Linked DNA regions of Homo sapiens. The protein of the gene in region 2 purifies or fractionates together with the protein of the main gene of each other region. This does not show direct contact. Each region holds a gene or a part of one and is shown on either strand. Other genes may lie near its edges. The genes, in order: BOK, TESPA1, ITPR1 and ITPRID2.

Region 1 (5,918 bases), on a different chromosome or scaffold from region 2:
CAATCCTCCCACCTCAGCCTCCAGAGTAGCTGGAACCACAGGTGCAGGCCACCGTGCTTGACTAATTTTATTTTTTAGAGATGGGATCTTGTTATGTTGCCTAGGCTGGTCTTGAACTCCTGGCCTCAAGCCATCCTCCTGCCTCCCAAAGTGCTGGGATGACAGGTGTGAGCTACTGGTCCTGGCCCATTATACTCTAGTTTGATGAAAGTGTTCAAAAGCCACCGAGAACCCTGCCTTCTGCAAGTATTTAATTAGGAGCACCCAGTGGTGATACTATGCATACCTCTATTGCCACATCACACTATGGACTATCGGTGTTCTTTTTACTACTGGAAATCAGCATTAGTGCCTTTACATCTAATCAGGATAAAGACCCAATTCCAGGAACCCTCCCATCCCCACCCTCTCGCCACTCCCCACCCTCAATTATTTTCAAGCAAACCCTCCGCACCTCTTACCATGTTGTGTATAGGTAGAAGCTATTTAACACACACACAGTGACATTCTGTCTAAAATGACAACGATCGTTTGGAGAAGTTTATTACCACCCCTACCCTCCAGTGGGATCTCAATGTCACGATGAGTCCGGGGCTGGCTTTCCGCCGGGACCCTCCTGTCCTGGCACATGGCCCACCCCAGCACGAAGCCTGGCCGGGAGGGCTCAGGTGGGTGGCTGCTAGGCCAGGCCTCCCCAGAACGACTGCCCCATGTCCAGCCTGTATCTCCTGAGTGCCATGCTGCACTGGGGAGGGACAGGGCTGGCTCGGGGCTCCAGGAAAGATGCCTCACATGTGCCTAGAAATGTAGGCGTCAAGGGAAGGCTGTGTGTGGGGGCACCTGAGGGGCTGGGCTTCCCAGGCATCTGAGTTCTTACGGAGCCCTAATAGGCACATCCCCAAATGGTTGTATGAGGATGAGCACAAAAATAGCAGATGGGGTCACCCTCACCCTCCACTGACAATGGACTGGGATCCGACTCATGCAACATTCCTTCTCGGCCGTAGGTTCCACATCCATGGGTTAGGTGTGCTGGCCTGGAGCCCGCCGGCCCCGGTCCCCACCGCACAAGGACCCCATCACAAGTGGGTGTCATACTCTTCCTCCAGAAACGGATTAAGCAACCAGCATGTGAACCTTACGCTCTGTTTACAGGCTGAGTCCCCACAGCTCTTCCAGCTTCAGCCAGGCCAGGGTCACCTTCAGATTGAATGTGCAGGGCCCCTGAGGACTCATGTCCTGAGATGGCCCTTCTTCCTGGGATGGGACCCCCGGGTTCAGGTGAGAGGTGTTCCCGGGCCCCTTCACCTGGGGCTCAGGTGACAGGAGGTGTTCCGGGCCCCTTCACCTGGGGCTCAGGTGAGAGGAGGTGTTCCGGGCCCCTTCACCTGGGGCTCAGGTGAGAGCAAGTGTTCCGGGCCCCTTCACCGGGGGCTCAGGTGAGAGCAGGTGTTCCGGGCCCCTTCACCTGGGGCTCAGGTGAGAGCAAGTGTTCCGGGCCCCTTCACCAGGGGCTCAGGTGAGAGCAGGTGTTCCCGGGCCCCTTCACCTGGGGCTCAGGTGAGAGCAGGTGTTCCGGGCCCCTTCACCTGGGGCTCAGGTGAGAGCAGGTGTTCTGGGCCCCTTCACCTGGGGTTCAGGTGAGAGCAGGTGTTCCCGGGCCCCTTCACCTGGGGCTCAGGTGAGAGCAGGTGTTCCCGGGCCCCTTCACCTGGGGCTCAGGTGAGAGCAGGTGTTCCGGGCCCCTTCACCTGGGGCTCAGGTGAGAGCAGGTGTTCCGGGCCCCTTCACCTGGGGTTCAGGTGAGAGCAGGTGTTCCCGGGCCCCTTCACCTGGGGCTCAGGTGAGAGCAGGTGTTCCCGGGCCCCTTCACCTGGGGCTCAGGTGAGAGCAGGTGTTCTGGGCCCCTGCATCTGAGGCCTGGGAGTTGACCCTGACTTCCTGGCCCCAGAAAGAAAAGGGAAAACACAGAGATCACAGGAGAAGGGACACAAGCGGGGAGGGTCGCAGGCTGCCCCAAAGCCCAGCTCCAGGCTCAGGAAAGCCCCTCCCCACTCACCCCTTCCGGAGGGCCTGGGTCTGCGGAGGAACGGGGCTTAGGGGGTCTCCGAGGGTTAGAGTGCTCCAGGCTCGGGTGGGGAGGAGGAAGATGTGTTCGGGTGCTGAGGGCCTCCTGCGTTGGGCCCAGAGGGCCAGGCTGCGGCCACTGCCAGGTGGGCAGCTCATCTCTCTGGCAGCAGCACGAAGAAGGCAGCCTTCAGGAAGCGGCCGAAGCTGCAGAGTGCAGCCACCAGCCAGTGGGAGCGGAGGCCAGGGTCTGTGCTGACCACACACTTGAGGACATCAGTCTGGGAGGGAAGAGGGAGACCGTTAGAAAGCAGAGCCAGCACCGCCAGGCCCCCAGCACCGCCAGGCCCCCCAGCACCGTGCACCAGAATATCAGCAAAATTGCATGAAGGGAATGCAGGAGACTGTTCGGGAAGGAGGTCTGTGGCCTGGACTGAAGGCTCCAACACAAGACCAGACCCGATGCCGTGCACATTCAGACAGTGTGAAGGGCCAGGAGGCACGGGAGGTGGGGACAGATGGCAGCCAGGCAGGCCGGCCGGAGGGCCCCTGCCGAGCAGGAGAGAGGCCTTCATGGCCCTCGCTGGGGCTCCAGACATCCAGACCAGGGTGCCAGCTCCCCTCGGCCACCTGCCTGCTGCCCCCCAGGGGCTACAGGTATGCCGCCGTCATCCTCCTGTGGGGCCTTGGAGCCTGGGCTACCAGGAAGGGGCAAACCCAGCTTCATTCAGACTCTGCCTGGAACAACAGCAGGGACTGCGTTTCCGGAAGCCCACGGACTCCCTGGACTCTGAAGTTCCTTCTGGGGAAGTGAATGAACGTCCAATTCTCTTATTCCCTTCACTTCCTGCTAATACATGAAGGCTTTTCCCTGCAGCCTGGACCTGTGGCCTTGGCGTTGCTCAAAGTGTCGTCGCCCACTGGGCACACAGTGCCCAGCCCCATGCCAGACTCCACAGGAGGAAGACAGGAGGGGACGGAAGTCTTGGGGTTTCTGTGCTGAGGGACACCTGTAGCCATGTGCGACATCTTGGGACATTGCCCTCTGCACCCCCAATTCAGCCTTCAGAGGAGACCACAGCCCCCGCAGACCACGTGACCTCAATCTCTCGAGATGCTAAAGCTAAGGCCCCAGCAGAGGGGTCTGAGCGCTGTCACCCCTGGCCGCTGATTTACACACCAGGCCAACACCCGCTGTACAGGAAAGAAGGCTAGACTCTCGGCAGGGGAGCCACCCTCCACACCCAGGGCCCAGCGGCAACTGCGGTCTGGCCGGAGCAGGGCAGGAAGTTGGGGGCGTGGAGACAGAGGAAGGGTTTGGCTCTGACACCCACCCCTCGGGGCCTTGCTTTTCCCACTCGGGAGGGCGGGGGCTGGGGCAGCGGGTCCTTAGCACAGGGGTAGGATCGGGGGTAAGTCAGTGCTGGATCTGGGCAGAGGAGAGTCCAGGGCCTGCCTGTAGGTCTCGGCCCTTGCCCCACCCCCTGCCTCACCCATCTCCCCCAGGAGTGCTCAGGTGACCACCCATCCGCCACTCCCTCCCGTACCTCTGCACCCTCGCACCCCAGCTCTCCCACCCCCACAGGCGCTCAGACACTCACCCATCCGCCACTCCCTCCTGTACCTCTGCACCCTCGCACCCCAGCTCTCCCACCCCCACAGGCGCTCAGACACTCACCCATCCGCCACTCCCTCCCGTACGTCTGTACCCTCGCACCCCAGCTCTCCCACCCCCCAGGCGCTCAGAGGCTCACCCATCCACCACTCCCTCCTGTACCTCTGCACCCTCGCACCCCAGCTCTCCCACCCCCACAGGCGCTCAGACACTCACCCATCCGCCACTCCCTCCCGTACGTCTGTACCCTCGCACCCCAGCTCTCCCACCCCCCAGGCGCTCAGAGGCTCACCCATCCACCACTCCCTCCTGTACCTCTGCACCCTCGCACCCCAGCTCTCCCACCCCCACAGGCGCTCAGACACTCACCCATCCGCCACTCCCTCCCGTACGTCTGTACCCTCGCACCCCAGCTCTCCCACCCCCCAGGCGCTCAGAGGCTCACCCATCCGCCACTCCCTCCCGTACCTCTGCACCCTCGCACCCCAGCTCTCCCACCCCCCAGGCGCTCAGACACTCACCCATCCGCCACTCCCTCCCGTACGTCTGTACCCTCGCACCCCAGCTCTCCCACCCCCCAGGCGCTCAGAGGCTCACCCATCCACCACTCCCTCCTGTACCTCTGCACCCTCGCACCCCAGCTCTCCCACCCACACGGGCACTCAGGCGCTCACCCATCCGCCGCGTCTCCGCAGCCAGGTTGCCAGGGTCTTGCGCACGAACTCCCCCAGGCAGTCCACGAGGGCGTGGACCATGGCAGGCTGGGCCTGCCTCACACAGTCCACGGCCAGCCCCGCGGCCACCGCATACAGGGACACCACCTTGCCCCACGTGATGCCTGCAGGGAGAGAGATGGTCAAGATCAGGACTTGAATCCCGCCCACGGGAGCACTTAAGGAAGGGGCTGGGCCTCTCTGAGCCGCTGTCCTGCTTGCCGTCCAGCTAATGACCAGGGACCGTCCCAAGGGGGGACCGCTCCCTGACAGGATGCCTGTCAGGTAGTTCTTGGGCAGGCAGGTTTCTCGGCCTCCACTGCACACCTGCCCAGCCCACGTCTGTGCAGGAGGCCGCAGGGACAACGTGGGGTGAGGCGAGGGAACTGAGGGCAGCAGCAGATGGAGTGAGCAGCCAGTGACCTCACGGGTGGCACCCCTGGGCTGCCTGTTCCCACAACAGGCCTGGCGTCCACATTTTACACATAAAGAAGCTGAGGCCCGCAGAGAAACTGCCTTCCCCAGACCCCTAACCTGCTGAGGCTGAACTGAGATGGGAGCAGCCTTGAAAGAGAGGACGAAAGATGGTGACAGCGGGGGAAAGAATAAAAGGCAGGACACGACGCCTCAACACGGAAAGACGTCTTATACGTGAGCGAGAAAAGAGAGGCTTTCAAAAAAGAACTATGAGCACAGAACTGGAACAGCTGATTCACAAAAGAAAATTATAATAAGAGACACGAAAAATGTTTACCTTCATTAATAACCAAAGAAAGGCAAATTAAAACAAAATGTAATCTGTTGCATTAAAAGCTTTTACGCCAGGCGCGGTGGCTCACGCCTGGAATCCCAGCACTTTGGGAGGCCGAGGCGGGCAGATCACAAGGTTGGGAGTTCAAGAGCAGCCTGACCAACATGGTGAAACCGTCTCTACTAAAAATACACAAAAAATTAGCCAGGCGTGGTGGCACGCGCCTATAATCCCAGCTACTCGGGAGGCTGAAGCAGGAGAATCACTTGAACCCGGGGAGGCGGAGGTTGCAGTGAGCTGAGATCGCGCCAGTACACTCCAGCCTGGGCGACAGAGCGAGACCCCGTCTCTAAATAAATAAATAAATACATGCTTTTAAATGGCAGTGTGAGGATTCAGGCCACTGCACAGCCTTGTAAACCTTGGTGGGAAGCCCAGCTTGAGGGCACTGGCAGTATCTGAATGGCCACAAAACATGCAGCCCAGCAGTGATCCCCGCAGGGAGTTAGCAGCGGTCCCCGGAGGGAGTCAGCAGTGGTCCCTGGAGGGAGTTAGCCTGAGGACACTGTACATGCAAAGATGAAGCACTGCTCTCCAATCCACCCTCATACAGCGGCCAACCTGGATTTGTTATGAAAACATAAATCAGCTCAAACAAACACTCAGTCACAGACATTCACAGCAGCCAATTCACAATTGCCAAAAGGTGGAAAGAACCCAAGTATCCTTCAACAGATAAATGGATACAAATGTGGTGGATGTTACTCAGCCA
Region 2 (7,041 bases):
TAAATGGGAACCAAACTCACAAGTTCTGAGTTCCAGATGCATGCTTTCTTCCTTTATATCATACAGCCTTCCTCCTGCCACACTTGGTTTCCAAGGCCCAGTCCCAGGTTTGCCTTTAGTGCTCTAGGGGACATGTATGAGACAGACCTCTCTTCTCTTCTGTCTGTTTTGTACCTATGCCCCAAGCAGTGCCTGTGAGTTGAGACTGAGAGTGAGAACCAGTGTGGGAGGAGAGAAGAAGGAAATGGGGTTTCCATGATGTGGCCCATAAGACCTTCTGCATCCACAGCCAAGATATACATCATTACCATCGCAGAGCTGCGGGAAATCCCAGAGTAGCTAACATTTCTCTGTTCATGAACTGGACAAACTCCACCTCAACCCAGGTGGATTGTCCCCCATTTGACATACCCCAATCTGCAACAAATTCTCACATTCCTTCATAGAACTGTCTTCTAGCTCCTAACCCTCTTCCATGTCACTCAGGTTGGAAGATCATCAGAACAAGAATTTCCCTGAGTATAATATTTGAGCATTCTGAGACTTCTATTGTCTAAGGAGCAGTTCAATCTGTTCGGGGAAAAGGAGAGATGTTACTTGGTAAATAACAGAAAGAAAAAATGCCCATTAGTCAATAGAACTCCTATTCCCCTCCCTTTTCATACTCTTTCTCCCACAAATAAGCGTAGCTGAATAAATACTGAAAGAAGACCATCTAAGACCTTTTTCCTCTCCTTCCCTTTCTTCCTTACTTCCACTTTTAGGATATGAATTTTAAGAAAGGCTTGTATAATTGCTACAGGAAATATTAAAGTTGTGGATTTGGAAAAAAAATTAATCGCTTGTTCTCAATGTAGGGAGACATCAAATATCTTCATTTGAATGGGCAATAAAGACATCAAGAATAAGAAACAGCAGTTTATCTGAGCTGATTTATAGATGGCTTCATCAAGAGAAAGTAGGGAGAATGAGCAGATTTCTCAACCATTGTGTTAGCTCTGTGAATTCGTATCTTTAATTCTTCAGTTTCATTTCCTTGGTAATAAGCTCTGTCCTGCATATATTCATTTTTCTTCTTTCCTGCTTTTCTTTTTCAATATCTACACACTCTCTTCTCCTCGTCCCTCTACTTATTTGACTGAACTCTTTTCTCAATCTGAAATCTGTGTTTAGGCCATTCTGCATCAGGCCTGGGTGTTGTAAGGCACACAGTACTGTGGGTACTGGAATATCCACTTTGGTCTTGTGCCTTAGGTGGAAAAGAGAACAGTTGTCAGTTTGCAGGTGGAAATAAACGTGTGATCTTTTCCCCTTACTGTAGCCCAGAAGGAATCTTGTAAGTCACAGCATTGGCTGAGACGAGACCTCCATACTAGAATCCAAATCAAACATTGAACTGAAAATGACGGTTGGGGCTTCATGTTCACTACATAATGCTGAATCGCAGGGTTCCATCTTAATTTTCAAAAAACCCAAGAGTTATGAGAACATGTTGGTAGCGTGGTTGTAAATGGTTTCTAAACACCCTGGGGTGCATGCGAATAACTCAGATGTTAAATTGCTTTCTATCCCTTCTGCTATATCTTCAGCTTGTTATTTCTGATAATAGTCCAAGTAGAGACAGACAATAAACCTGACTTCCCTTCTTCCTACTAACACTTCATGCTGCAAGACAATATTGTGAGATCTTTATCTCTAATCACTCAGCTGAACAACTATTGAGTCTGATACTTGGACACACAAGTTGAAGGTTCCTACCTCCAACCTCCCATCCTAGGTACTGCCCTGCACCATCTAGAAAGTCTCCTTACCTCTCTACTCAGGACCATTTGTGGTATACAGAGTCACTAGTACTTCCCTGGATATCTCCTGTAAATGCTCACAGTCTTGTCAAATCACTTCTGTGGAACTCTCCTTTCTTGTCCTTGCCCTGCCCTGGGGACCCACCCTTTTTCTTCCACCCACTGGTGAGCTTAGTGGCACAGAAGGGGCATGGGAAAACCCCAGGGTGGAGGATCTTTCCACTCCTCCATCTACCCCAAAACTCATGTAGGTGGTGATATGCTCTGCCTGCTACCACTGGGGCAAGGGGTGTTGGAGGAGCATGAAGCCCCCAATATTATGTAGGTCACTGAGAAGGCAACACATCCATCTATCTATCTTTGAGATGTGAACCCTGAAATCTGGTCCTGATGGTGGCTATCCATCTATCTTGAGCCTCCCGGTGAATTTGACCTTACCTCACTCAAGTGTGTACATCCTCCCTCGTAGCTGACCTCAATATATCTTGCTGCAGTTTATCTCAACAAGTTTCTTCTACAGCTTCTGAAGAAAGAGGTCATACCCACAGAAAGCAAAGTTGATTTCAGCCAGGTACTCTCAATGGTTGGAGCTATGGACACTAGAGTAGGGCCTGAAATGAAACCGGGAAACTTCTTCCTTGAGAACTTTTCGATGTTATAATCAGATGGAAATTGCAGCAACAATGAGTTCAGCAAGACACAGAGAAGAACTTTGCAGGTGAGAAAGGTGAAAAAAAATTCCTAAAATGTTATTCAAGTCATCAAAGAGACCCAAGTTTTGAGAATCTAGAAAGATTACCTCTCTGATAATAAAGAGAAAACAAACAAACGAAAGCAAAAGGGCACCCAGCATCGTTCTCCTAGGCATAATGATGGATGCTTTTAAGGTTGAAGTAAGAGTGGTGGGAGATTTTCTCTTGATTTTCCCTTGACTTGACAGCCTGATTTTTCTCTGACATGTTTCCTTCTTTCTCCTAGCATCACCCTAAATCAGTACAGCCTTGAAACTGAGATAAAGGCTGTGCTTACCTGTCTGCTGGTAGAAAGCTGAGTTTGAGGCAAAGCAGTTGTCGAAGCTGGGCCGAGGCCTTCACAGGTGTGGGCACAGAGGTGAAGCAAGTGAGAAAGTATCATGTTGTAGATTATGCCTTTCTCCCTGAACTCATTCAACTGCTGTTGCCTGCTCAAAAGGGGAAGCGGAAATGAGAACACACCACACACACACACATCCACACATGTAGATGCAGTCCCCGCCTCCTGGCCCAGCCACATCCTTTGCTCCGGCTCAGGAGACTGAGCGAAGGACAAACCATCCGTAGACACGGTGCTCACAACTAGGAAGACCTTCCTGCCCCAGAGCTGCCTCTGTCTTTCCAGAAAAACAGGAGATCTTTTCCTATTAAGGCAAAGGTACAGTCCATTTAAAGAGGTGTGTGCAGGAGTCTTCCTACCATATAACTAGAATTCCACTGCTGCAGATAAATCCTTCTGTCCTCAGGAGAGCTGTCTGAAAATGGGAAAGCTCTCTCTCATAAATGATCTGGCGTTTATCTCAGAGAAGAAGTTTCCAGTCGTATCACACACTTGAGAGGGCTCTGAGCCAGTCGCTCTGTGTTGATAACTTTCATACTCTGGTAAATTCCCCCGAAGCTTGTTTTTGAATACTGACTACTTTTTTTTTCTGTTAGTTTCTTAACTTTGTTTTATGTTCAAACCACTTCAAAGTTTTTGTTTTTGTAGTAAATGACTGCTTTCCCCAACGTTTTCAAAGCTGAACTTTTAAAATCGGTTACACCCTGAAGATGTCTTCAGTTTATTGGTTTTCAGTTTGGAAAAGGCTTGTTGAACTCTAAAAGGTTTCTCCCAGGCCTCAATCACTTTCACCCACCGGGAGCATCCAGCACTGCTAACTATCCCTCCTCGCTTCTCCAGTATCTCTGAACACTCTTCTCCGTAGGATGCTGCTGCATTTTGGATATCTTCTTTCTGTCTCTCTCCTGATTCTACTGTTTCCTTCTTTAAATCATTTATTTATGAATGTATATCACAATATTTATTCTACAAGGCACTCCTCTAATGTGTTAATTGTGACTGATTTTCACATGTTCATTACCTTCTTTCTGATTTTTTGGCTATAGGTATAGTTAGATTTTTTTTTTACCATGTTTCTAAATTCCATTTCCAATCATCAATGGGACAACTCCATTGAGTATCCATAGTATAGCTATAATATGGTAGAAATAATCCTAAATAAAATTCTTGCTTGGCAAATTAAGTTCTCAAAACATTATTTTCTTCAAGTATAATGTGAGGAAAATAACAATTCTCTCTGTTTCTCACTCAACCCTTCTCCCACGCTATTCCTTTTACGTAGGCATGAAAATATCTAACATATTTTCTCAGGACATAGTAGATGCTAAATATGTGCTTCTCTGAGAATTAGCTTCACAGTCAACAAGTAAAATGCTAAATCCAACACGCCCTAATTCTCTTTATTTACTATTCTTTTCCGTACAAATTAACTATAAAAGCTGAACTAATGGAAACTTAACAACTCTTTTAAATCCTAAGTTTCTAGAATTCAATGTTTTCCTTAACAGTTGTTTTCCAATATGTTTGGGAAATGGAGAATATAACTTCGGTAGGGAGTTTGGAAATATGTGAGAGAGATTTAATTTTCAAAGAAATGGGAAGCTGATACTGGTATTTAGTACCTGAGGGCCAATGATGATAAGTGCTTTTGAAGGGATGGGACTCTTCAGTATAAGGAATAATTGTCCTGGCCCAAATGTCAACATTTTGTTAACATTGATAGTTTGATGGTTAGGAGAGCAGGCTTTAGAGTGAAGCTCTGGCATCAAGTAGCTCTGTAGTCTTGGATACGTTAACATCTCTAGGTCTCAGTTTGTTAGCTGCTAAATGGGGATAACCTTACAGGAGTGGTTGTAGAGCTATAAGAATAAAGGAATACAGAGTATTCAGTCCAGCGCCTACCTTACAGCAAATGCTCAAGAAATTGCAGCTATTTTTAAGACTCTTGAAATATAATAGTTTCTTTTAACTTTTATTTTAAGTTCAGTGGTACATGTGCAAGTTTGTTACATAGGTAAACTCCTGTCATAGGGGTTTGTTGTACAGATTATTTCATCACCCAGGTATTAAGCCTAGTACCCAATAGGTATTTGTTTTGATCCTCTCCCTCCTTCCACCCTCTACCCTCCCATAGGCCCCAGTGTGTGTTGTTTCCCTCTATGTGTCCATGTGTTCTCATCATTTAGCTCCCACTTATAGGTGAGAACATGCGGTATTTGGTTTTCTGTTCCTGTGTTAGTTTGCTAAGGATAATGGCCTCCAGCTCCATCCATGTTGCTGCAAAGGACATGATCTCATTCTTTTTTATGGCTGCATAGTATTCCATGGTGTATATGTGCCACATTTTCTTTATCCAGTCTATCATCACTGGGCATTTGGGTTGATTCCATGTCTTTGCTATTGTGAATAGTGTTGCAGCAAACATACATGTGCTCGTGTCTTTATAACAGAATGATTTATATTCCTCCAGGTATATACTCGGTAATGGGATTGCTGAGTCTAAAGATATTTCTGTTTTTAGGTCTTTGAGCAATCGCCACATTGTCTTCCACAAGGGTTGAACTAATTTACACTCCCGCCAACAGTGTATAAACATTCCTTTTCCTCTGCCACCTCGCCAACATCTTTTATTTTTTGACTTTTTAATAATAGCCATTCTGAGTAGTGTGAGATGGTATCTCATTGTGGTTTTGATTTGCATGAAATATAATATTTTCAGTTTCTGCAGAATACTATGTCTATCTGTCAAAATTACCTCACTCATTAAAGATACCATTTCACAAGCAATTGCTAGAGATTTTTTTGTTAATAAAAAAGATGTATTAATTTTTGGTTTTTATTTATATTTATTCTTAATTTTTATGAGTACATATGTAGGTTTATATGTTTATAGTATTTGTGATTTATTTTTTGAAAGAAATATTTTTCTCTTCTACAAGCAGCTTCTGAAAGACAAAGATGAAGACTATATGATTCCTAGGAGGAGGAGGCGGCCCAGGGTATTCCTCTGTTTATCTTCTTTCTCAGTTGTATAGTCTTTCTCTTTCTTTCTTTGTTTCTTTCCTTCTTTCCCTTCCTTCCTTCCATTCCTTTTCCTTCCTTCCTTCCTTCCTTCCTTCTTTCCTTCCTTCCCTCCTTTCCTCCTTCCCCTTTCTCTTTTTTCCCTCTCACCTGCCCTTCCCACCCTTTGAAAACATTGTCTCTATATCTTTGGCACCATGAACTTCTCTGAGCATATATTCCAGGTGCTTCATGAAAACAAAATGACTTGTTCTTTTTATACGAGACGCAGTAGTTCAGGGTTTCTGAAGGTTTTTTTGTGAGCTTGTTCATTTTTTTTCCCTTGGTTAAAAATAAAAACCCTTATGCTAACTGAGATAATGAATTAGCTCTCTACTGCCTATGTGATTCAGCAGTTTGGTGCCTCATGATAGGGCCTATTTGTCATTCCATGGCTCCCTCTCTTGTGTTTTATAGAATTTAGTAAAAACCCTGAACTAGGGGTAAAAGAGCAATCTGAGTTTAAAACTATACTAGTTACTTAATTTCACTGGATATCGGTATCACCTTCTGACAGAGAAATATTTTCTAAGATCCTCTTGGCTTTAGATGTCAGTAACACCTGTACAGACTATTTTTCTCTACCCTTTTATAACTGCATGTAGTTTATTATGGAAAATGAAAATATTAAGTGATATTTGGTAAGAAATTATTATAAAGGTATTAGAAAAAGTATTTTGAAAGACTCTTTTCCATTGAAAAGCCAAGTAAATATTGCTTTTGAATAATATTATCCTCTAGACATGTAACCTGATAACACTGATAAATAAGAACAATTTCTGAACACTGATGAGCCCATCAAACAGATGGGCTGTAGTGAGTATAAGTTCTGGAGCTGCAGAACTACAGGCTGAGCTGGCAGGTTGCCCAGACCTGGGGCAGAGCCAGGACAGCTGTCCATAGAGGCTGTCCCAAGACAGAGAAGCTGCTGCTCAGAGCCACTGCTCTGGGCCGAGCAGCTGGGCCCCTCTGCCCAGGCCCAGATGCAAATCATCTGCCTCCATTTCAGCTCTCAACCTTCTTCTTTCTCAGATCCTGGGGTTTGCAAATGCCATTTTTGTTTTGTTTTGTTTGGCTGTTTTGTTTT
Region 3 (7,031 bases), on a different chromosome or scaffold from region 2:
AGCAATCATATACATACAGTATAAAACTGAGTATTTACAAATGTATTCAGCATAAATGTAACCTTCGTGGGTGAATCAGAACTCATTAGCCATACCCACACTAATAATAATTATAAAAGGTAAATACAATTCCTTTCTTTCATTTGCTTATGCTGGTTGTTGTGGGTTGACATTCATGTGAGGAGGATGTCCTAGAAGACCAATTCTTTGTTTCTGCTTCCTTTGTTCTGTCATCTGGAAAGTTAAAAAGTTTCATCATTAGACCCAGATACTTCCTGTACGTCAAATCGCATACTGAACCATAGATTTACCTCTGTGGTTATGGTTTATACTGAAACCCACTTTCTACAAATAGTGTACCATCGCTATATCAAACACACAGCACTTCAAAAAAGGCATCTTCTTAGGCAGAATGGGAAATTCTGTGACCTAGTCATGCAATGTAACATTCAGAAGTATTGCTTGCCACTTGTTTCATAAAGAAACAAAAAACAATAAAAGCACAGGATTCTTTCTTGTTTCCCAAATGCACTTCCAAATGATTTGAAGACTCATTGGAAAATGGTGGCTTTGTACGATAGTAACAACACGCCATACTAACAAGAAAAGCAGTGTTTAGAATCCTAGGTTTGAGAGGGAGGGTTCGTGTCCACACTTTCAGTGGGTCCTGATTTTTCTCTTCAATGACTCTTGAGTAGTTGGTTAGAGAAAAAAAAAATTACCTACCATAACTAGGAAAATGAGAAATGTTCTCAAATCTCTTTGAGGTCCAGAATGATTAAATGCTGTAAATAATGCTGTGACCATTCACGGTATCTATTTCTTGCCACCCAGTAGACACTGAGGCTCGCTGAAGGTCAGGCGAGACCATTGCCTAAGACTAGTTCAAATGAAAAAGTACTTTCAAAATCCCAAACAAGAAGCCGATTCTATTCATTTGGTTGCTGAACTAAATATATTCTCATGTTGATGGGTCTCTAGACCTGTTCTAGGTATTTTAGGGCATACTTACTTCTGTCTCTGTATTAAGATTTTCCTTAACCCAGTTAGTCTTAGTTTTGGATTTTAGGGTGAGCATTCAAGTCAACTGAGATAAAAAGGCTATACGGAATATATATTCAAGAAAATTGTTGTCTGCAAGTGGGTTAAGGTCCTACTCCTATGTTTTTAGCTTCCTAAAATTGTAGAGGAATTAGGGTAAAAAGAATAAAGGCTTTGGAATCAGATCTAGTTTCTTATGGTTTTGTCATTTAACTTATCAAAGTCTGTTTTCTCATCCATACAATCAGGATGATAATTCCTAGCTGATTGGTGGAGAATTGCGAGGTTATACGCAAATTTATTAGCATAGCATCTGTCACATAGTAGATGTGACACTTAATCTCACTTTTCACATGAACTCATTTTTGGTACAAAATATCTGGAGAGAACATAAAACAAGACTAATTTACCTAGGTTCAATTTCAATGTGGTTATTTTTTCTTCTTCAAAACTAGCATTATCCTCTCAAATCAAAATACTATTTTTAGGCTCCTGTGGAGATGCTTTCTCTGTTATAATTTAGATGAGAAGACTTACAAGGACTTAGTATTTCCAAAAGGTAGCTTTTAATAAAGCTTTTAATTAAGAATTGGATTAGGAAATTCCAGCTAGCCCCTGAAGTTTCCTTAGGTGAGTGACATCTTTAAAGGAAGTGTTACACACTACACTGTATCCACAGATTCGGCTCAGGAAGGAGAACCTAATATGACACATGAAATAAATTCACAATTAGGTTAAAATGCCAGTAATTCATTCATCTTACTACCTGATAGTTCAGATGTTTAGCTCAGATTTTTCTCCCACAACCCTTCCCTTGGCAGGTAACCTTGAGAGGGAATCCAATACAACTTAGCTAAATTTGGATAATCTCAAGTGTTCAAATTGATTTAGAAATCTTGGTGTGCTCAGCCAGGTGCAGCGGGCTCACGCCTGTAATCCCACCACTTGGGGAGGCTGAGGTGGGCAGACTGCTTGAGCCCAGGAGTTCGAGACCAGCCTGGGCAACGTAGCAAAACCCCATCTCTACCAAAGGGGAAAAAAAATTAGCTAGGCATGGTAGCGTGCACCTGTAGTCCCAGCTACTTGAGAAGCTAAGAGTGGGAGGATCACTTGATCCTGGCAGGTGGAGGTTGCAGTGAACAGTGATGATGCCACTGCACTCCAGCCTGGGCAACTGAGATCTTGTCTTGGAAAAAAAAAAAAAAAAATCTTGGTCTGCTCAACCCTTATTGAAGGATACTTTACTCAAAGCTTATATTTAAAGCTGCTGAAATCTTTCAACTCAAAGTTGAATGTCAAAGTTGGCCATTAAGACTTTTTTCCCCTGTAATTTTGCTTTAAATAACTACTTGTATTTGAGATGACCTTTTAGTATGCGTATTTTCATCCCTGTTTGTTACATCAGCTCTCCTTGACTTTTCAATTTGTCAGTTAGTCTTTCTCTTCAACTTGAAGAAACCTCTGAAACTTTACAACAAAGGAGTCTTCAGTTGGTGGCCTGGCTTCCTTTTCACTTCCACAGCCGCGGCCTGATGCCTCCTCAGTTAGCAGCCCTATTCATCTGTCTTCATAAGTGATCCCATCGCCCACCCTCCCTCCGTCCCTATCCTTAAGGCTCCCCACTGATGTGGGTTATTGGCCAATTCTTTGCTCAGGTAGTCATATTCCTGATAATTTTAAGTACCAACTACACATCTAATGTTCTTTTCTGTTTCTCTAGAAGAATGGTTCTCAAACTTCAGCATGCGCCAGAATCACCCAGAACATTTGTTAAAACACAGATCAGAAACAGAGTTTCTGACTCAGTAGGTCTGGGGTAGGTCCCATGAATCTGCTTTTCTAACGATTTCCCAGATGATGTAGACGTTGCCGGTCTGGGGACTACACTTTGAGAACCACTGCTCTAGAAGAGGTTTTTCACTGATAATCTCCAAAATCGGACAAGATCATTTTGAGTATATACTTGAACACTTTTTTTAAAAAAAGTAATTTGTGTACATATATTATTTTTCTCAAATGAGGGAAGCTCTTGGAGAAGATTGTCTGCAACTGAGCATATAGTAGGCACACACATTTGACTGATACTCTTTTGATTAACCATGGCCTTTTAGACAGAATGGCTGTCATTTAAGTCAACATCACTGCCATTTAAGTGACTGCTAAAGGAGAAGGAATTGGGCAACTGCTAAAGTGTTTGGCCTTTTAGTAGCAGTCATCATCCAATTACAAGAGAACCAAAAAAAAAAAAAAAAAAAAACCCCTCAAAACCCTGAAGGACTAAATCTGACCTATAAGAAACTGAGGCCAACAATTCTGGACGCTTAGGTTTCTCCAGCCTCTTAGTGCATATTCTCACATAATTTCTGGTTTTATTAGTTCAATTCTTCTTATCTACTTACCTACCCCACCTACATACATTCACACGTACTATCTATATATCTTGTTATAAGGCATCATTATTGTCTGTTACTCTTACCTACATCAAAACAAATATAATGACCAAAGTCTATCCTTAGCATTTTTGTCAGATAATAGTCTCTCTGGACATCTGAAACAAAATTGACTCTTGAGTAAAAAAAATCTATGGTAACTGTATTCAAAATTCTAATATTGAAACATCTATTTTGAGTAGTGTGAGATGTCTCATTTATAGTACATTTAAAAATCCTCAAAACGGCTGGGCATGGTGGCTCACTCCGTAATACCAGCACTTTGGGAGGCAGATCACTTGAGGCCAGGAGTTCGAGACCGGCCTGGCCAACATGGTAAAACCCCATCTCTACTAAAAATACAAAAATTAGCCAGGCATGGTGGTACATGCCTGTAATCCTAGCTACTTGGGGGCCTGAAGCAGGAGAATCACTTAAACCTGGGAGGTGGAGGCTGCAGTGAGCTGAGATCGTGCCACTGCACTCCAGCCTGGGCAACACAGGGAGACTCCGTCTCAAAAACAAAACAAAGCAAAAAACCCAAACCAAACCTCAAAATTCCCATGTAGCTAAGGATAAACAGTTGTAGTAATGCTGTTCTTCACATCTATACAAATGTAGAAACTAGCTTGAATTTCAGCATTCCTCCTTTTGACTCATCTAAACAAGAAGCAAAGAATAGTGTAGCTTTACAAGTCAGATACAGCCAGACATCTGAAAGACTGTTCATGAAAACACGAGGCATACAGTAGAAATGGGCAAATTTTAATCTACCAGTATTGCCTCTAAATGATTAAAGGCTGGCACTGGAAGGAAAGTTCATTGACAGCACACAAATGCCACATTTCTGGTTTATAACACATCTTAATAGTCTTTGAAAAGCTGCTTTCATGTTACAGGAAGGTCTTGGTTACTCAGATTCTAAACAGCTAGCAAATTCTAGTAATCACAGTTATTTTCTACAGCCCTATAAAATCAGTCATGTTCAGAATGATGAGCCTCAAATACTGAGAAATGAAACCAAACCATCCCTTGAATACAAATATGTTGATTTACTATCAATGTATAGATACAATTCAGATTCTTAGAGTTGATCTCAAATGCTCTGTTTCTCTCTATTTCACCTGGCCAACTCTTACTCAGGCTTTGAAACCAAGCTCCTGAATTACCACCTCTGAGAAGACTTCTGTGGTAATTACTCTAATCCTCTCCCGAAGATCAGATTGAACAAATCACTCCCTTTTCTCCATTCCCAGAGCAATGTGTTCACAGCTCGGTTACACACTCACCAAGTTTAATTATAATTGATCTGTTTACTTGTTTCCCACTCTAGACTTTTAGTTCTTGAAGGCAGAGAAGAGGATCTATTCATCTTTGTAGCCCCAGTACCTAATGCCGCACCTGGCAAACAGGTGTTTCATATGTGTTGGCTGAAAGAAGGAACGGAATTAACCAGACCATACTGCCATTCCTTGAGCATGCCATGCATTTTCATGCCGTTGCTCATGCTGATTCCTTTCCTGGGAAGCCCCCTACTGCATTTCTCTGCCAGCTCAGAAGTCACCTGCTTGTAAGATTATAAAAGCTAAACTCCTTCTGCACTGCAAACTTCACACAGGACCACTACCTACCTACTTCTTTGTGCTCCATGAAACTATTCATGCCTCAAGTCATTCATACTGTATCAGATTGCTAGAGGTCTACTTCTTTGTCTTTCTTGCTAGATCCTGGATCTAGAGGGCAGATGTTGACTTAGTCTTCTTTTGTGGTCCCAGCACAGTATAAGGAACATAGATGCAGTACGGGTCGTTTAATATTCCATTTTCCAACTTTGGGCAGTTATTCTAATCTTGTGTTATGCCTTCTGTCCTTAAGCAGTTAATGTTAGCAAGATAACCCTCTTGTATGAAAAATGCCAAATGCTGTAACATGCTAATGTGATCTGAATTTTCAAGCACTTCTTGTATTCCTAGCAACAGCAAATAATGGTCGCTGTCCTATAGGAAGCCAGTCATATTTTCAAGAAAGTTAGCCCTTCTTAGTATTTGCTCTTTTGCATTATGAAGAAAACATGCAAAAGATTTTTAAGTTCTTACATTAGTTCTCCTCCTTGGAATAAGAATGTAAGAGAATCACATTTAGTGTTCAGAATCTCTTGGGAGGGGAAACTTCAAGATGAGAGGCATCGTTAAATAATACTTAGAATAGCAATCCTAACCAACCATTCTTGGCAATAATAGAAAAAGTGACACCACTAACCATAATTTTACTAATATCCTAACAAGAACTTTTTTCCCTCAGATTGATACATAACGAAACAATCAAAGAGGTAAATAACAGTAAAGATTTAGACCAAAGTCATCCACATTTAAGCTATCGTTGCTCGAGTCTGCTGGTTTTTGAATCAGAAAATCTAAAACAAACAACAACAACAACAAAACAAAAAAAACCTCTAAGTAATGGAGCAATTTTTGTGTTTTCTAGCACTTTTACTAGTGAATGGTATTCTTTCATAGCTGTTTTAAAAAATATCACAAGATTTCTTGGTCATTAATCATTCATGGAGCTTTTATTTTTTAATTCAAAATTTTTTCCCACAAAGGGCAAGAATTCTCACAATTACTATTTAAGAAAGAGCAGCTCTGTAACATATCTGCATTTTTTAATATCTTTTGCACATAAAGGGTTTTTAAACCTTTATGATTGCTATAACCAAACTTAATGAAATTCAAATCTATTCAACAAGTTGATTCTCAAATGCATTAAAGGTTTGTAGGACGTTACATAATCAAAAGAAAACACTGACTACTTCCTTTTAAAAGATGCAAATCCCCCTGCCCCCTCAAAAAAAAAAAAAAAAAAAAAAAAAAAAAGCAGCTATGCTGAATTTTTCCTGTAATTCTGAGTACCTTAAAACTTAAGTAGATCAATCCTGGTAAAAGCACTTGAGAATGTACTACTGGATTCTCATGCTTCTTTTTAACTTATAATATCTTCCAAGAAAAAAAACAGTTCAAATTCATTCACAGGGGAAGGGCTTTCTGAAGAGTGGTTCCAACTGCCAACTTCAAAATAAAAAATGCATAAAAGGCTGGAATCAAGCAGTTTAAACCATACTGGTTTTAATGTCACTTAATGAACCTTAGTCCATATGTAATCAAATTTTACATATTTTGTTTAAACTAAAACTTTGGCTTATCCAGAATAATCTTATCTTGGATTTTAGAAATGCCAAGTCTCTACTATGCTCACTTGTATAAAATGACAATGAATGTATCCTCCATACCATTTAAGTATATGATGCGACTTGACTTCTGAAACTTCAAGCTTTTTTTTAAAAAAAGAGTAAGAACTTAAACAGTCAACCATGAAAGGCAAACAGTACAGTGACATAACAAAGCAAATAAAAACACACACACACACCCCTGACTGGATGATCAGGAGCTCCTGCCCTGGCAATGCCTAAGAACCTTCTGGGCTCCTTTGGTATCCTCATCAAGAAAATAAGGGAATGAGGTGAGATGGCATCTGAAGTCTCGGATACTGTCCTATACCTCTATT
Region 4 (7,031 bases), on a different chromosome or scaffold from region 2:
TTTAAAAGCCCAAAGGTTAAAGATAGTATTACCCAATTTAAAATTTGCTCTAATTTGTGATTTCTTTGCTCTACATAGCTCCAGGAACCGAAGTTTATGAATCTTTTGAAAACTGAAAGCACACTACTCATGCAAAACCATCACCTGTAGATCAGATATATAAAAATAGATTCTACTATTCTTTGTTATCTTGTTAAAATTAGAATAATTCTTCAAAGCAGCAGATACATGTTCAACAGGAAAACCATTGTCTTGTATGCAAGGGAACAATGTGCGTTTTCTTTTTATATTCAATAAAATGTCTATTATTAGCTTCTATTCAGGCTCGGTCTACTTCAAGTATCTTTCTGTAAAGTAAATATCAACCAGATCAAAAAATTATAGCAGAATTCCAATGCCTCTGCATTTATGTTCTAGGAATACTGGCTCAGGCACAGCATTAATATACCAAATCTCTCACTGTCATGTTTTTTTTAAATTTAATCTATTTATTTATTTTGAGACTGGGTTATGAGACTGGGTAATTTTTGTATTTTTGGTAGAGATGGGGTTTCACCATGTTGCCCAGGCTGGGGTCTCAAACTCCTGGGCTCAAGCGATCCACCTGCCACAGCCTTCCAAGTGCTGGGATTAAAGGTGTGAGCCGCCGCACCCGGCTGCTCACCTTTAAACACAGAATTATCACATATTCTATTTCCTTAGACTTATGAAATTAATCACAAAATAACATGACTTTAATAAACACATATCATCAGCATTCTATTCTTCAAGATGCTACTCAATGGCAAAAACAAATCTACTCTCTCCTTTTACTACAAACTCCATAATTAAGTGCAAGAAAGGAGCACTTCAAAAAGCTGAGACAGTCACATTTTACTAATAAAACTAAAGTTGGGATTCTTCTTGTTTACTCAGCAAAATCAGAGTACCCACTTGCTGAAGAGAGAAACATACATGCTAGTGATAATGGGTGAATTTCTTATTTTATTATTGGTCACAATTGTGCAAAAGGCGGCAGTCAAATTTGAGATGGGGTACACCACAGAGAATTATGAAGCAAATATAGAACACAGAATTTAGATTTATGTGACAAGATTTTCCCTATTCAGTGGTTTCAAATGCTCCGTAGAATTCTGGTCATTTGCTATAAGCAGCCTTTCATAATTAACAAGAATAGCCAAATAAAACTGAATTAGAATGATGAGTAATGGGTGTTCATGATATTATTTTCTCTAATCTTCAAGTAAGTTTGAAACTTTTCATAACAAAACTGTTTCATAATATAAAAAAAAAAAAAAACCACTAAACCAAAGTGATAAAATTGCATGGTCTCAATGTTTTGGGATTCAAAGATGAAAAACAGCTTTAGAATAACCCACACATTTGGGTTACTTCATTTAAAAAAGTTTTCATGAAACAATGACTGTATCTTTCTAAATCAATGTTCTGCTAAAATGACAGGCACTCACTTTGGTTTCTTTCTCTTGTTTAAAAAATGTACTTTTTGTTTCAGTGAACCACTTTGGTTTCTTAACAGCTGTCATGTTTACCTTGACTAAGAGGGATCTTCTAGGCACAATACTACTGTATTGTATTGCACAGGACAGCAATACATGGATGTTCTAACTCAAATAACCCTTCCTCTAAAGTTTAAAAAGAGACTGTATAGCTGTCATCATTGAATAAACATTGTATATCAAAATGGTTTTCAAAGAAAATCAAAACTAGAGCTTTAGAAATTACAATTCTGTCTAATTTTTAATGACAGCTCAAAAAAATGTCAGAGGAAATCATTCTTTTTCCAAAGTAGTAGCATGGTGCTGTGCATCAGATGATTAGTTCTTGTACAATGCCTGACCATACCAACATATCTGACCTTCACCAAGTTGTATAGTATAGTCACAAGTAACGTGAATTCAAGTCTTATTCATGCCACTTACTGGCTAACGGCCTCTGACAATTATCTGCGATAAATATCCGTATTTTTTTTTTTTATTTCATTTTTTTGAAACAAGGTCTCGTTCTGTTGCCCAGGCTGGAGTGCAGTGGTGGAATCATGGCTCACTGCAGCCTCAACTGCCTGGGCTCAAGTGATTCTCCCACCTCAGCCTTTGGAGAAGTGGGACTACAGACATGCACCACCATGCACGGCTAATTTTAAAACTATTTGTAGAGACAAGTCATGCTATGTTGTCCAGGCTGGTCTCTAACTTCTGGGCTCAAGTGATCCTCCTGCCTCAGCCTCCACACAGTGCTGGGATTACAGGTGTGAATCACCATGCTCAGCCTCAAAATTAAAATTAACAGCAAAATTAAAATTAAAATTTCTACCTCATAGGTCCTTGGGGTGATCAAATGTAACTGTAAGTCAAAGTACTTTCAAACAGTAAAGTAGTAAGAATGTACAACAGGAGATCCTCCTCTGCCATCCTCCACTGACACCCGCTGTGCTCCTTCCCCCTGTGAAGCACTGATATCAAAAGGAATATTATAGCCCTCAGAAAGATGGTGAAGAACCACTGCTATAAAACAATATCAAATGAGGGAGGGGATGCTTCCTCATTTGTAAAGGGAAGAAACTAGAAAATGAATAAAGTATCTCTTTCCGTACTAGTTTATGATTCTATAAATTACTTGCAAATGTTTATCTTAAACAAATACTATCGAGTTTTACACATACACACAAAAATATCATTTATTTTTACTGTCAGGTAAATTTTCAATAAAAATTGACTAAGGTCTTTTAGGTAAATATCAAATAACAAAACAGTGGTTAATTGGGCTTTAGAGTAGCAGATATCTGTGCATGTCATATGTTAGAGTTCATATTCCAGGGCAGGCTTATCTTCAAAACATACACAGTTACATTTAAAAGGCCAAAGGAACAACTTAATTATCTGTCAAATATCTGACTGATGTGGGATTATTTTAACTCAGACCAATAAACATAGAAAAATCCTAAAACTTAACAGCTAAAAATGAGAAGTCAAGTACATTAGTTAAATCAATAATTAGTATGAAGACAGGATTAGAAACAGTTACTAACACATCAGTAGCTTAAAAAAGATTATGTGTATATCCAATAATGGTTATATTTAAATAAAAATTCATTTAAAGGTCAAGAAGACCACACAGTCAACTTCTTACAGAAATGCTGAGATAAAAGTTCTCCTTCTTAAGTTTTTCCTTTACATCTAAAAGATGAACATCTGCTTGAGAAGGATCATTTTGGTTTAACTTGTGAATCATTCACACTACTAATCTATGGCTTCAGAGAGTTACCATGACGTATTCAAAATAAGCCATTCAAGAAGAACACAAGAATTAATGAAGCAAGTCATTTGGAATAATTAGAAATTCAAGAACAGGATTTAATAACTTTTTATAAATAGTTATAGGCTGGGTGTGGTGGCTCACACCTGTAATCCCAGCATTTTGGGAGGCCGAGGTGGTCAGATCACGAGGTCAGGAGTTTGAGACCAGCCTGGCCAACGTAGTGAAACCCCATCTCTACTAAAAATACAAAAAATTAGCTGGCTGTGGTGGTATGTGCCTGTAATCCCAGCTACTCAGGAAGCTGAGGCAGGAGAATTACATGAACCCAGGAGGCAGACGTTGCAGTTAGCCAAGATTGCACCACTGCACTCCCGGGTGACAATGCGCGACTCCGTCTCAAAAAAAAAAAAAAAAGAAAAAACATCGTTATAAACATTCATAACTATTTTAAACAGTCTACAAGACACTTTATAAGGCAAGTTGACTTTTAACTGAAAGTCTCTGGCCTTTTCCTTTTCTAACATAAGAAACAGACACTTCATTGTACCAGGCCAGGAGCAGTCTCATCATCTATTTAGCTCTCTTTACATTTAAGTATTTTGTCTCTTTGCTTCTGGTGACTGTTGGATCTTACCTCTTGTCTCAGATGGATTAGGCAGCTTCATGCAGTCAACATATCTGCAACATTTTCTCCTTCCTAGCTTCCTAAAGCAGCTCATGCTCAGATAATGTTTCTGAGAACTGATTTACTGAGACAGAGGGAGCTCTAACTTATATTTACTCATGGTTTTCACAAGAAGAAAATTCCCAGCAAGAATCAAACCTCATGGAAAGAGGTCCAAAAGAAAAATAGCAACAAACTACACTGAATAGGATCTAAAAGTCAGTTTCAATAAGATTGTTCTCTTCATTTGTCAATATGATTCAAGTGTTTGGGAGAAGAGGAAATTAAAGTTAACACATTATTTCCTTTATCCATTGTTCTACAAGCTCTCTTTAATGTTCCCTTAGGGATGAAAACACACTTCCAGGAGGTTTTTATCCATATTTTAAATATATCTGAAGATACATTATTTTCTTTAAAATTCCCCATATTTACAATGTAGCTGTGGTCGACCATAAATTCATTTAAAAAAAAAATCTCCCATTATTCTTCCACCAATGCATGTAATCTTGTACTTCAAAAAAATGTTCACGTCAATGCTACATTGCTTTCTTCATTAACCTTTTTTGCCAGTAGAGGGGGCAAAAAACCCCCAGACTATCATTAAAGGTTAACTTGCCACAAAAGTACATCTAGCACTTTATAAGTGTTTAAAAAACCTTTTGTGTATGGCATCTTAAAAAATTTTAAAAACTACAGCTTAGAATTCAGGAATTTTAGAAATTAAAAATAAACTTCCTTGACTTCTTTGAAGAGTGACTTACTTGAAAATATGAGTGTTGTTCACTCGGAGTCGCCAATATCAGATTTGCAATTACCTAACATAATTTGTTTAGATCTTTATGCTCTGCTATTGTATTAAACAAGGAAATTAACTGCCATATCTAATTGTCATAGAAGAGGGCCCTAATGGTAGGCAAAAATTTACACTTTAATTATGAGTGCTGGAACAAGTTTAGACCAAAACAAAGTCAAAAAGTTATCAGAGTGAAAAAGAACAAACAGAGGTTTTAATGTAGTCATCACAGTCATCTTCCATACTCATTACGATGAGAAATAAATTATACCAGGAGGTAAAAAGATAGAAGAAATATAAACATATACAAAGAAATAAAAGAAAAAAAGCTCAAAATGTAAAATATTCCAAGGTGCTGCTCCTACTCCCTTTTTATTTCACTATTCAGTTGTAATTAAAGTATTAACAGACCACAAAAAGGCAAAAATCTGTATCAGCAACTGAAATTTTACAATAAATGAAAAATCTTCACTAATCTGAGGGAGGGAGGGAGGGAGCAAGAGAGAGAGACACTCACCTAAGAGGACATTTATGAGCTGAATCAATTATTTCATTTTCTAATTCCCTAAAATAATGGTGTGTGATGTTAAAACTACTGTGAACTATTACTAAAACGCATCTAATGTAATAAATTACAAAAGACAAATTGCGCATTATATAATTTATAGCCACAACTCTTCATTAGCATACATATGCCTCAGTTTCCTCATGTATAAAATGAGACCACTACCATGTGCCTCACAGACTGCAATGAAGTACTTCAAGAGCCAAGAACAGTGCCCAGCACAGGGTAGATGCTTGGTAAAATCAGTTTTCCTGCCCCAAGCTATTCAGCTCCTACTATTCAGAAGCAGTTTTAGCTGAACCTCATTCAAAATAAGTATCTTTTATCTTTTCCAATTAAAAATTTATGTTAACTATCAGGTATATTACTGGACACAAATAACAAGTAACCAAACATTGGTCTTTTGGGCTTGCAGAAACCCTATTCAGTGGCCTTTCAAACCTGCTAATTCTAGGGTCCCTATCCTCCCCATGCAGGTACGTAATATCTTCATGTTCTTTCCAGTCATATAACAAGAACTATCCCCAAAGCCGCCTTCACATATCCTTACCACTGAGATATGTTAAGAAAAGCTTGCCCAAAGGCATACAGTCATTCAGTGGCAGACAAAACTCAAAGCCCTGTTTGATTTCAAAGCCTGTGTTTCTAACTATTATGCAATATTGCTTTGAATTTAAATATACTCTCTCAGGGCTTTCTTGAGCATCAAAATCTTACCCTTGAGAGAGAAAAGAGGGTTAAGGTTCAAATATCAACTAGTGGATAAAGATCTGGAGGAGTTACTGAACTGTCCCATTACCTCGACATCACATTATCCTGAGACCAATTCTTGGTTTGTGAAACATAAACCTGGAAAGTCAAAATTAGAATAAATTTTTCTAGTATAAATCTATTAGCTACCTCTCATTTTATAAGCATTTTTGGTACTTTTTTTCCTAGTCTGCAACTTGAAACCAGTCTCAGTAATTTTTTACCTACCTCTTCCATTTCGAAGGAGTCCTTCTGCTGTGTCATTATATTTCTTATGGATGGTATTGTCAGTGGTGCACAAGGCTCTTTTTCAGGTGTGGATATATGGACACTTTTCAGCTCACTGCTATTTTCCAGCTCACTGTGGCTGGATATGTTGAAATCACTATCTAATTTGGATTCTACAATACCAGATTCCTCACCCAGTTTACTCTCATGACTTTGAGTTTCTTTACTTTGTTCATTTTCAGTTCCTTGGTTAAAATTACTATTTGCTTCATCAGAAATTCTATCACTATCAGCATTCTCCGTAACAGCTGCTGAACTACCAGAGACTTCTTCTTTAACTGTAGCCAACATAGAAGATGACTCTTTCTTCTTCATAATTTTTTGAGACTTTTGATCGTTTTTATTGCCACTTTCTTCAATCACTGAAACATTTAGAATCTTTCCTTTTTCAGCTGATGGAGAAGGACTACTACTTTCTCCTTTCTCTGTTTTATCAACACATAAATTCAGTTTTGAGAGTGTTTTCATTAAACGATTTGCAGTGTTACTTCGAGTTAAAGGTGGAGGTGGGTCTGTCTCCTTGTTAGAGGTCACTGAGGACATACTTCCAATTCTCTGCAGGGGCGTCCCGGAGACTTGAGAATATAAAGAAGAAAACGCATTGGCCACAGTAGTAAGCACTTCAATTTGACGAAAACGGCCTACCAAAAGAAACAATATTAATGATATGTTTATATTTATATATATACATA

Evidence for each region.
Region 1: the proteins of TESPA1 (region 2) and BOK purify together in Homo sapiens (affinity purification with mass spectrometry; 3 studies listed by BioGRID and IntAct, with this or other methods). This does not show direct contact.
Region 3: the proteins of TESPA1 (region 2) and ITPR1 purify together in Homo sapiens (affinity purification with mass spectrometry; 3 studies listed by BioGRID and IntAct, with this or other methods). This does not show direct contact.
Region 4: the proteins of TESPA1 (region 2) and ITPRID2 purify together in Homo sapiens (affinity purification with mass spectrometry; 3 studies listed by BioGRID and IntAct, with this or other methods). This does not show direct contact.

The regions. Positions count from the first base shown.
Region 1 is NC_000002.12:241,568,727-241,574,644, reverse strand, and holds the end of BOK (bcl-2-related ovarian killer protein), read right to left. Parts: intron 4,521-5,918; coding exon 4,357-4,520; intron 2,349-4,356; coding exon 2,223-2,348; 3' UTR 514-2,222; downstream 1-513.
Region 2 is NC_000012.12:54,981,754-54,988,794, forward strand, and holds the start of TESPA1 (protein TESPA1), read right to left. Parts: upstream 3,010-7,041; 5' UTR 2,832-3,009; intron 2,414-2,831; exon of another isoform or gene 21-2,413; intron 1-20. UniProt on the Homo sapiens protein: Required for the development and maturation of T-cells, its function being essential for the late stages of thymocyte development.
Region 3 is NC_000003.12:4,839,342-4,846,372, reverse strand, and holds part of ITPR1 (inositol 1,4,5-trisphosphate-gated calcium channel ITPR1), read right to left. Parts: intron 235-7,031; coding exon 148-234; 3' UTR 1-147. UniProt on the Homo sapiens protein: Inositol 1,4,5-trisphosphate-gated calcium channel that, upon inositol 1,4,5-trisphosphate binding, mediates calcium release from the endoplasmic reticulum (ER).
Region 4 is NC_000002.12:181,901,715-181,908,745, reverse strand, and holds part of ITPRID2 (protein ITPRID2), read right to left. Parts: intron 6,981-7,031; coding exon 6,280-6,980; intron 1-6,279.